Linked DNA regions of Homo sapiens: regions 1 and 3 are each linked to region 2. The links come from fine-mapping of genetic effects on gene expression. A gene starts in region 2. Each other region holds a variant in brackets. All regions are shown on one strand. Distances are from middle to middle. Region 1 overlaps PER3 (period circadian regulator 3). Region 2 holds the start of VAMP3 (vesicle associated membrane protein 3). Region 3 overlaps PER3 (period circadian regulator 3).

The links. PIP is the estimated chance that this variant, and not a neighbour inherited with it, causes the effect.
Region 1: its variant is the best candidate, but not a certain one, in a credible set for the expression of VAMP3 in whole blood (INTERVAL, PIP 0.67).
Region 3: its variant is the best candidate, but not a certain one, in a credible set for the expression of VAMP3 in whole blood (TOPMed, PIP 0.58).

Annotation. Positions count from the first base shown.
Region 1 is chr1:7,811,289-7,814,050 of GRCh38, reverse strand. All of the region lies in intron 13 of PER3 (period circadian regulator 3), which reads right to left. It overlaps LOC124903833 (a long non-coding RNA gene), which reads left to right. Exons shown (of 2, transcript XR_007065450.1): 2 at 2,447-2,762. Among named protein-coding and RNA genes, the nearest start is that of PER3, 28 kb to the right of the region's middle. RefSeq lists a silencer at 2,576-2,762. The variant C/T (reference allele first, on the strand shown) is at 1,658.
Region 2 is chr1:7,769,579-7,772,340 of GRCh38, reverse strand. It overlaps VAMP3 (vesicle associated membrane protein 3), which reads right to left and starts at 1,045. Exons shown (of 5, transcript NM_004781.4): 1 at 956-1,045. The coding sequence starts at 957. It overlaps CAMTA1 (calmodulin binding transcription activator 1), which reads right to left. Exons shown (of 23, transcript NM_015215.4): 23 at 2,635-2,762. RefSeq lists silencers at 682-911, 876-1,118 and enhancers at 1,352-1,401, 1,145-1,841.
Region 3 is chr1:7,842,263-7,845,024 of GRCh38, reverse strand. PER3 (period circadian regulator 3) reads right to left here. Exons shown (of 22, transcript NM_001377275.1): 22 at 1-2,353. The coding sequence ends at 2,270. Among named protein-coding and RNA genes, the nearest start is that of UTS2, 9.4 kb to the left of the region's middle. The variant C/T (reference allele first, on the strand shown) is at 1,247.

The DNA of each region.
Region 1 (2,762 bases), 42 kb before region 2:
TCATCTCTGGCATTGATGTTACAGATGTTACATTTCCATTTGAGGGTTTCTTTCATGCCCATCTCTACGCTGTGATTACCCACCCGGTCCTGCATGGTGCCCACTTTGTCCACTAGCCTTTAATACATCATTCATAATTATTTTACTTTCCCTGTCAGATAGTTCCAACTTCTGTGTCCTCTCTGAGTCTTGTTCTGATGATGGTTTTGTCTCTTGGGAGGTTTCTTTTTTCCCTTCTTGCCCATCATATGCTACATAATTTCTTGTTGAGAACTGTGTAACTTGTGTAGGACACAGAGACTGGGCATGCCTTTCCTTCTTTTAGACCTCTGAATTAATCTATTTTTTAGGCCAGGTTTGAGTATTGTAATGGTTCTACAGCATGTACAACAGCTTTCAAATTCCTCTAGTTATACTTCTTGCCTCAGCTGGTGGCTGGTTTGGTGGGTAATTTTTTTGTTTTTTCTCAGTATCTGCTCCACTTTCAGCTTTTGGTCTTTCCTTGGCATTGTGCCTTCGAGAGGGTCTGTCTTTTGCAAGTTACTTGACTCAGGCTGTCGGTGCACTGGAATCCAGTGCTGCATCTTGCTCCTCCCTGCAAATATGTTTCTCTCCTTAGATTTTAGGCCTGCTGGCTGCTCTGTAACCTCAGCACTCTGAAGTCAAGAAAGGTCTTGAACTTGCCTTTCATCTAGATTTTTCTGTTGTTAAGTCTGGGGTGATGCTGTTTCTGGCTCTCTACATCCCTGAGCAGAAACTGGAAGCAATCTCACTCTGAACCTGTTCAACTTAAGGGTCCTCTTCTCTCACTCAGACATTCCATCACCCTAGACATGGACACTTACTTTTCCCAGATTTCCTCAATGATGTCTCTTGTAGTTGGCCTCTGTACATGTAGCTGAAGGGGCTTTACATATCCCTGTTATTCCTTGCCCTCCCATATTAACTCATACTAACTTTTAAAATCTCTCTTTAAAGCATTATTTGCTCTTAGGTTGTAAGAAAGATAAATATAAATTTTAAACTTAAGTTCCTATAACACATGTAAACAATGATCATGCTTAACTAAGCATTTTCCTTTTCATTGGTATACATCTCTAGTCAATTTCTAACATTTAAATTATAACATTTTTAAGTTGCATCCTCATGTCTCTCAAGCAAAGAGTATAAAGGTTTCTGTAGCTCTTTAAACTTGTAGGTCTCCAAATGTTAATAAAATCAAGATCTCCCAGAAACATTGGTTCTCCAAAGCTGTGCCAAATGGCAAGAGATCTTCCTTCTTCTCCAAAGTCACATCCTGTGTGTGCTATTAGAGCCAAATGTAAGAATCTATCTAAGGAGTGGGAACATTTCAGTTTCTAAAGTAGCTGCATAAGCACACGGAGTTACCTGCAGCTTCAATTTTTTTTTTTTTTTTTTTTTTTTTGAGACGGAGTCTTGCTCTGTTGCCCAGGCTGGAGTGCAGTGGCGCGATCTCGGCTCACTGCAAGCTCCACCTCCCGGATTCACGCCATTCTCCTGCCTCAGCCTCCCAGGTAGCTGGGACTAGAGGCGCCCACCACCACGCCCGGCTAATTTTTGTATTTTTAGTAGAGACGGGGTTTCACCATGTTAGCCAGGATGGTCTCGATCTCCTGACCTCGTGATCTGCCCACCT[C/T]GGGCTCCCAAAGTGCTGGGATTACAGGCATGAGCCACTGCACCCGGCCACCTGCAGCTTCAATTTTATAAAAAGTGAATGATGGAATATTGCCATCTACTTAAAGATATAGCCTTCAAAAAAAAATAGTACCGATGGCATTACAAGATCCATGGTCGATGATAAGAAACTGAATAATGCAGCAAGTGAGAAGGGAAGCTATACTGAGATGAGGACAGAGGTCAGTGTGTGAAACTGTGATACTACCATGAGATCCTAGGCCCAGGCAGCTGTGAGCAGGACTAGCAGGACCAGACAATGAGAAAAACATTTAGACACTTTAGCTTTAAAAACCTCCTAAAAGAATTCTCTCTGCTAGGACATGGAATAATAATCTATATAGTAAAAATTGTATTTAAGATAAATTCTTTTGCAGAGGAGAAATGTAGGGGTTTCAAGGGACAATAAAAAAAGCAGCTGTGATTCCTATCTTGTGCCCTTACATGTAACAGCAGAAGAAACCAATGGAATGCTCAACTTCCTATCGAGGTGAAAAGAAAAAAAATGAAAGAACAGGACTTGCTCTGTCTGGGGAGTCCAATGGGCTCTACTATGGTTTGAATGTGTGTGTCCCCCATGACTCCTATGTTGCAACTTAAAACTCAATGTGACAGTGAACAGCCACGGCCTTTAGGAAGTGACAAAGTCATGAGGACTCTGTTCTCATGAATGGGATTTGCAACCTTTCAAAAGGGCTAGAAGGAACTAGCTAAGTCTCTTTCTGCCTTTCTGTCCCTTGTGCCATGTGAGGACACAGCGTTTGTCCCCTTCAAGGAAGTGATGTTCTCTGAGAAGCACAGACCTGGCCCTCGCTAGACACTGAACCTGCCGGTGCCCTGATCTTGGACTTCCTCGCCTCCAAAACTGTAAGAAATAGGTTTCTGTTCTTTATCCATTATCTAGTCACAGGTATTTTGTTACAGCAGTACAAACTAAGAAAGTTCCCAGTGATGTCACCTCTGGGAGCAGCAGTTTGACTTTCTGTGGTGTAAATCATGTCAAGTCCTGAAGCATATAGCTGTTATCATTATTGACCTCAAAAATTTCACCCCACTGTGTAAAACGT
Region 2 (2,762 bases):
CTGTCATGTGTCAATGACCAGGGCTACAACAGATCTCATCACCGTCCTCACGGAGTTTAGTATCTGGTAGATAAGTAAGGACCATGCCGTGGCGCTAGACTCTTTCCATGCTTTTCCTCCTTTAACCCTCATAACTCTCTGAGGGGAATATTACTCCTATTTTACAAATGAGTAAAGTGAGGTTTAGAGAGTCAACACAGCTGGCTGCAGGACAGCTTGTTTTTAGATCAGGTCCTGTGTACCTTGGCTCTAGATCTTAACCACTGTGATCTATTGGCACAGCAGCCTCAGCAGGAACATTCGAGGGGGGTCCCCAGCTCCTGGAAGAAACCCGGGGCTTCCTCCGACGGTGAGCAATGAGCAGAATGGAGGTGGAAGAGGGAGTCCTTGTGATTCTTAACCATTAGCATTCTCTGAGTCTTACCACTGGAAGCAGGGGTTTGCAACGTGCTTTCGCTTAAGAGAGCGAAGGCCCACGGTTAAGTGATCTTTCCAGTGCAGATGCCCCTAGCTAGGCAAGGAGCTCTTCGGCCCACAGGGGCTCAGGACAGGGCCGAGGTCCTTTCTTTCGCAACTTCTGGGGCCCAGCGCAGCACCGGGCCGAGAGCGGGCGCTCCCGAACCAGGGCTGTCGTCCCCATTCCTCTCAGGGACGTCGGGGACTAGAAAGGGAAGGGGCGAGGAGCGGGCTGCGGGCGGGCAGCTCACTTCCTCCGGGAAGCGTCTCGCCGCCCCGCCCTTGCCCCTTCCGCGTCCGCCCGATGGCCGCGGGACCCGCCCGGCCCGTCTGCAGCCCGCGACCCAAGGGCCACCGCCCACCCCCAGGCCTCGGGATCCCCGCGCAGCCCCGGCCTGCGTCCGAGTGGCGGCCGGCGGCAACTGGGCAGTATGGCGGTCCCAGCGCGAGCTGCCGCCTGCGGGGCCCGAAGCCGCCCGCGTCGCGTAGCGTCACTCACATTTTGGCAGCTGCGGCGGCGGCAGCGGCGACGAGAGAGGGTCAGCAGAGAAGCGAAGTTGGGACCGGAGGCCAGGGAGATGGGTGGGACGGCGCGGCGCGGGGCAAAGACGTCACTAGGCGGAGCCGGGGGAGTGGGCGGGGCGAAGAGGGGGCGCGCCGGAAGTGGGCGGGGGCGTCGTGGGTGGGTGCGTCCAGGGCGGGGTCAGAGCGAGACGTCCCCTCCCCGGACGAGGTCACTTGGGAACTTGAGGGCCACAGGGGTCCCAGGGCGGTCCGGGCTCTGAAACGCAGAACGCAGGTCAATACAGCTCCCTGTCCGCACCGCCGTCCGCGCTGGCGCTTGGGGACGTGGTCTGTAAACGTGGTGCATTAGCCACTGGCGAGGGACTGCGTGGATAAGTGAGGGTGGGGGCAATTCATGTTATTCTGGGCTCGGGACCATTTCTAACAGTATTAGAGACAGATGACTGGCTTCTGCTGAGTGTTCCAGAGTAACCTAGTGATCCTGAGGGCACCATGTTTCTCTAAAGTAGTTGAAATAGGAAGTCCATTTCGGGTATTTGTCACATGGTGTTGGGTGAGGTTCCCGCTCATGTTTTCATCGGTGACACAAATATTTGTCACTGCAGATCATATTATAATCTGCTTACGAGAGCCTTGGCATCAAGGCTGTAGTTCCTTTATTTCTGTATTTTCAGGCCCTAGCACAGAATAGGTCCTCAGGTTTTGGTCGAAGGGAGGGAAGCACAAATCTGAACGCAGTGAGTTACCTTGTATATATTTGTTACTGAAATATTCCTACCAACATAGTTACCTACACCAAAAAATAAAACACTAATAGGTCATTGGTGGGTCTCTTAGATGAGAAGTGAAAAATACAGTACTTAAATACTATGCTGTTTTTTCCAACTCTAAATAGAATACTTTGAAAAGGGAAACGTTAGTATATATCGAATAAACGAGTGTCACAAAGGCGGTGGGATTTGAGCTGGGTACTAGTGGAAAAGAACTTTCCAAGTAAGGGTTGGGCAAACACCATGAACAAAGACAGCAGTGAAAATGGACGCAGTGTGCACAGACCACCTAGAGGGTGCAGGTTGGGTACAAGTGAAAAGAAGACTGAATAAAGAGGATAAACAAACAAGAAAAATGTCATTTAATTGTAGTGGGCCCTGGAAACCATTGACTTACGGACGTGGGAGATCCATGATGCAAAATTTCTCTGGCAGTAGTGGCCAGATGGATTAGATGGAAGAGGGAGCACTAGGGAGATAAGGAGAGGCTCTGCAGTGAACGGGAAGGGAGCGGCGATGACACAATACTCAGAAAGGACGACGTTCGTAATCTGCTGGAAAATGCCTTTTAGAAGACTTTAGAGGATTGTAACTGAAAAGGTGAATTAAATTAATGTCTTTATCTTTCAAATAATTGCACTGCCTTACACAAATGATTGACATGTTGAGAGGTGCCTGGAAAGATAGGGGAAAAGCTCTCTGAATGGTGGCTGGAAGACATTTTTTCTTTCATGGACCTAGCTGAAACAATGTAACATTCAATGTCAAAACATTACATCTGGATCAGAAGGAAATCCTTGACATTATTACATATGTTTTGAAACATGTGCCCATCACCTTAGATTTCACTACCCGGTCATATTAAAGCAAAACACACACGTAGTATGGGGAAATTTTCTTCATTTTTAATTTACAGCAGAAAGAATATAAAGCATTCAGAAAACATTTTCCATATTTTAAGGGCAATTCAAAACATTTTGCATGGTTTCCAGCAGCTGAGTTCTTCAACAG
Region 3 (2,762 bases), 73 kb before region 2:
ATGAAGTGTCACTCAATTGCAAAATGATTTCCATTCATACAGCATTTTGTTTTTCATAAATTTTGACCTCTGACCAAAGAAAACACAGCTTTTTGGGTAACATTCATGAAAACATTGAAGCCTATAATATAAATTTTTATTACCACTTTCAATAGTCATTAATATAAAAAGTTAACAAATTTAAACAACAAAGTTTAAGCTGGGGAGAGCCCCCTCGGGGGGCATCGGTCAAGCTGCTGAACCCCCTGCTCACCGCCAGCAGCAGGTGCAACCTGGGAGTGCGTGAATGCGTCCACCCACAGGAGGAGCGCTCCTCATGCTCTGACAGTTCTGCGACAAGCACCAGTTTCAAATCAAACCTAGTATAACAAGTACTCCATAAAACGTGTGCTAAGGCAAAGAAATAAGCACATTTGGATAATACAAATATCCAGAAACAATGGAAAAGAAAGGCTTCTATTAGAGAACAGAAGGCTTAGCATATATGAGTGCGCAATGATCCTGATAGCTACGGATACTGTTTTTATTTACAGTGGCAAAAACTTTATTACTACAGAAGGTCACTGACAGACAATCTACTGGCTGGTTAATTGTTTCAAATTTGATTCTCTATCAAGCAAAAATATCACACAACCTGATCAACACACACACAAACGCTTCAGAAATCACTTAACTATCAAGATGGAGCAGACTATGAGAGCTATTTATAAAACACGAATATTTGCATGGAACTGCTTAATATCAGAAAATTCCAAGAACTGTCAAAGGCAGCATTTGAAAATAGTTCTGACACCTTAAGATGGAATTACCATCCAGAAAGCCACTACTTTGAAAGGAGATCTGAGCTATGAGGATGGTCATCATGGATGAAAAGGTCGATTTTCCTAATCATTATCAGGACGCATTTACAAAAAGCTGTAAAACTTCAAAGGAGAAAAGTATTTTCCTTAAAAAACCATAAAAAACCAAAAACAAAAAAAGGAAAAAAAAATAAATTAGTTTGTTGCAAGTTATATAAAGACAACAGGTTACTGTAACCCTCATTTTCTTCTATTTGTTTTTTCTGATCTGCAGGGGTGTGAATTTCATCTATCATTCCAAGTTTAAGAAGGAATCAGGGACTTCTCTAAAAAGCACCAGAGAGTGAGCTGATTTATCAAGTAAACAATCACACTCACTTCTTAAAAGACACAACTACAAACGCCATAGAAAGCGGTGACTGATGGAGCCTGCAGGACCCTGTGGG[C/T]GAGGACAACTGGGCTCGCCTGGACGTTTTCTCTTTTGCAGTCCCCACAACACTGCCCTGTTCAAGGGCAAACAAAAGGCAGTGCCAGTCAGACCTGTGGTAGGGCTGGAGCGACCTCTTTTGTATAAATTGATTGGAAAGAAAGAGTTAACTGTTTTGGTAAGAATGAAAATTTAAACACAGAAGTATGTAAGAATGATACTAGCTTTTACATTACTTGTAAAACATTTTACAATCATTATTTTAAAAACAAAAATACTCAAAAGGGCAACAGCACTGGGTAAGAAGCTCTTTCATTTTAATATTACACATGCAAATGCTAACTGAAACTTACAAGAATAGGCCCATGGTAAGCGGATCGATTTTTAAGATAAGACTTTCAGAATTTCACTGGAAGGTGGGAAATCAATAGGAAAGGGATCTACAAGGATGAAGGCCAAAACTCAACCCCCAAAACCTGGTTATCCCAGATATGCTAATGGACAGTATGTGCTAATGTGTTGTGAGAAAACCGGAATGTTTCATCTTAATTATGGAGGGGAACGCCAGGTTGAATGAAGCCTGTATGAACGTACTACATTCATGGAAACCATTATGAAAAGTACACAACCTGTAGGTGGCATTTCTTCAAGCACTCTAAGGGGAAAATGACTTATGTAACAGAACAAAATAAATGAGGCTAAGGTTTGGGGCTCATTCTAGCTATACTTCTAATTATAATTTACTCTGGGTGACATCTGAAATAAAGATACACATACCTCTTTAGAGGCCATCCAATCTCTTTAGAAGACAATTCAACTACAAAAAGAGCCTAACTGGCCATTTTAATATATCAGGAACAAAGAGAAGTAAGATTCTGTATACAATGTCTGCTTCAAAAAGATTACGTGTATTAAAAAATCAAGAAGAAAAAATCTTAACATTCAATGATAACTTCATGGTCATTTAAAAGTCCAGGACTTAAAAAGGTCTGTCTGTGTAACACGTCTTGGAAAGGGTATGAAGGTTCATCCTCACAGTCACTCAACAGCTGTCTTCTACCAGAACCTGACCACAGGATGTGGCCGCACCATCAGCTGAATCTTCATTTTCACAAGTGACACAGGCCTCCAAAAAAGAACAAAGCAGGCGAGTTACTTGATGTCAATGTCACCTAAAGAGTTTTAAAACAGTAAAAGGCTGGTCACATGTTTCTAAATCCCCAACTTATTCATGTCTGAAAATATTTCATTATAGTTCATTCTTTATTATTATTATAACTATTTTTATTTTTTTTTTTGAGACAGAGTCTTGCGGTGTCACCCAGGCTGGAATGCAGTGGTGCGATCTCAGCTCACTGCAACCTCCGCCTCCCAGGTTCAAGCGATTCTCTTGCCTCAGCCTCCCAAGTAGCTGGGACCACAGGTGCCCACCACCGCGCCCAGCTAATTTTTGTTTTTTAGTAGAGATAGGGTTTCATTATGTTGGCCAGGCTGGTCTTGAACCCCTGACCTCGTGATCCGCCCACCTTGGCCTC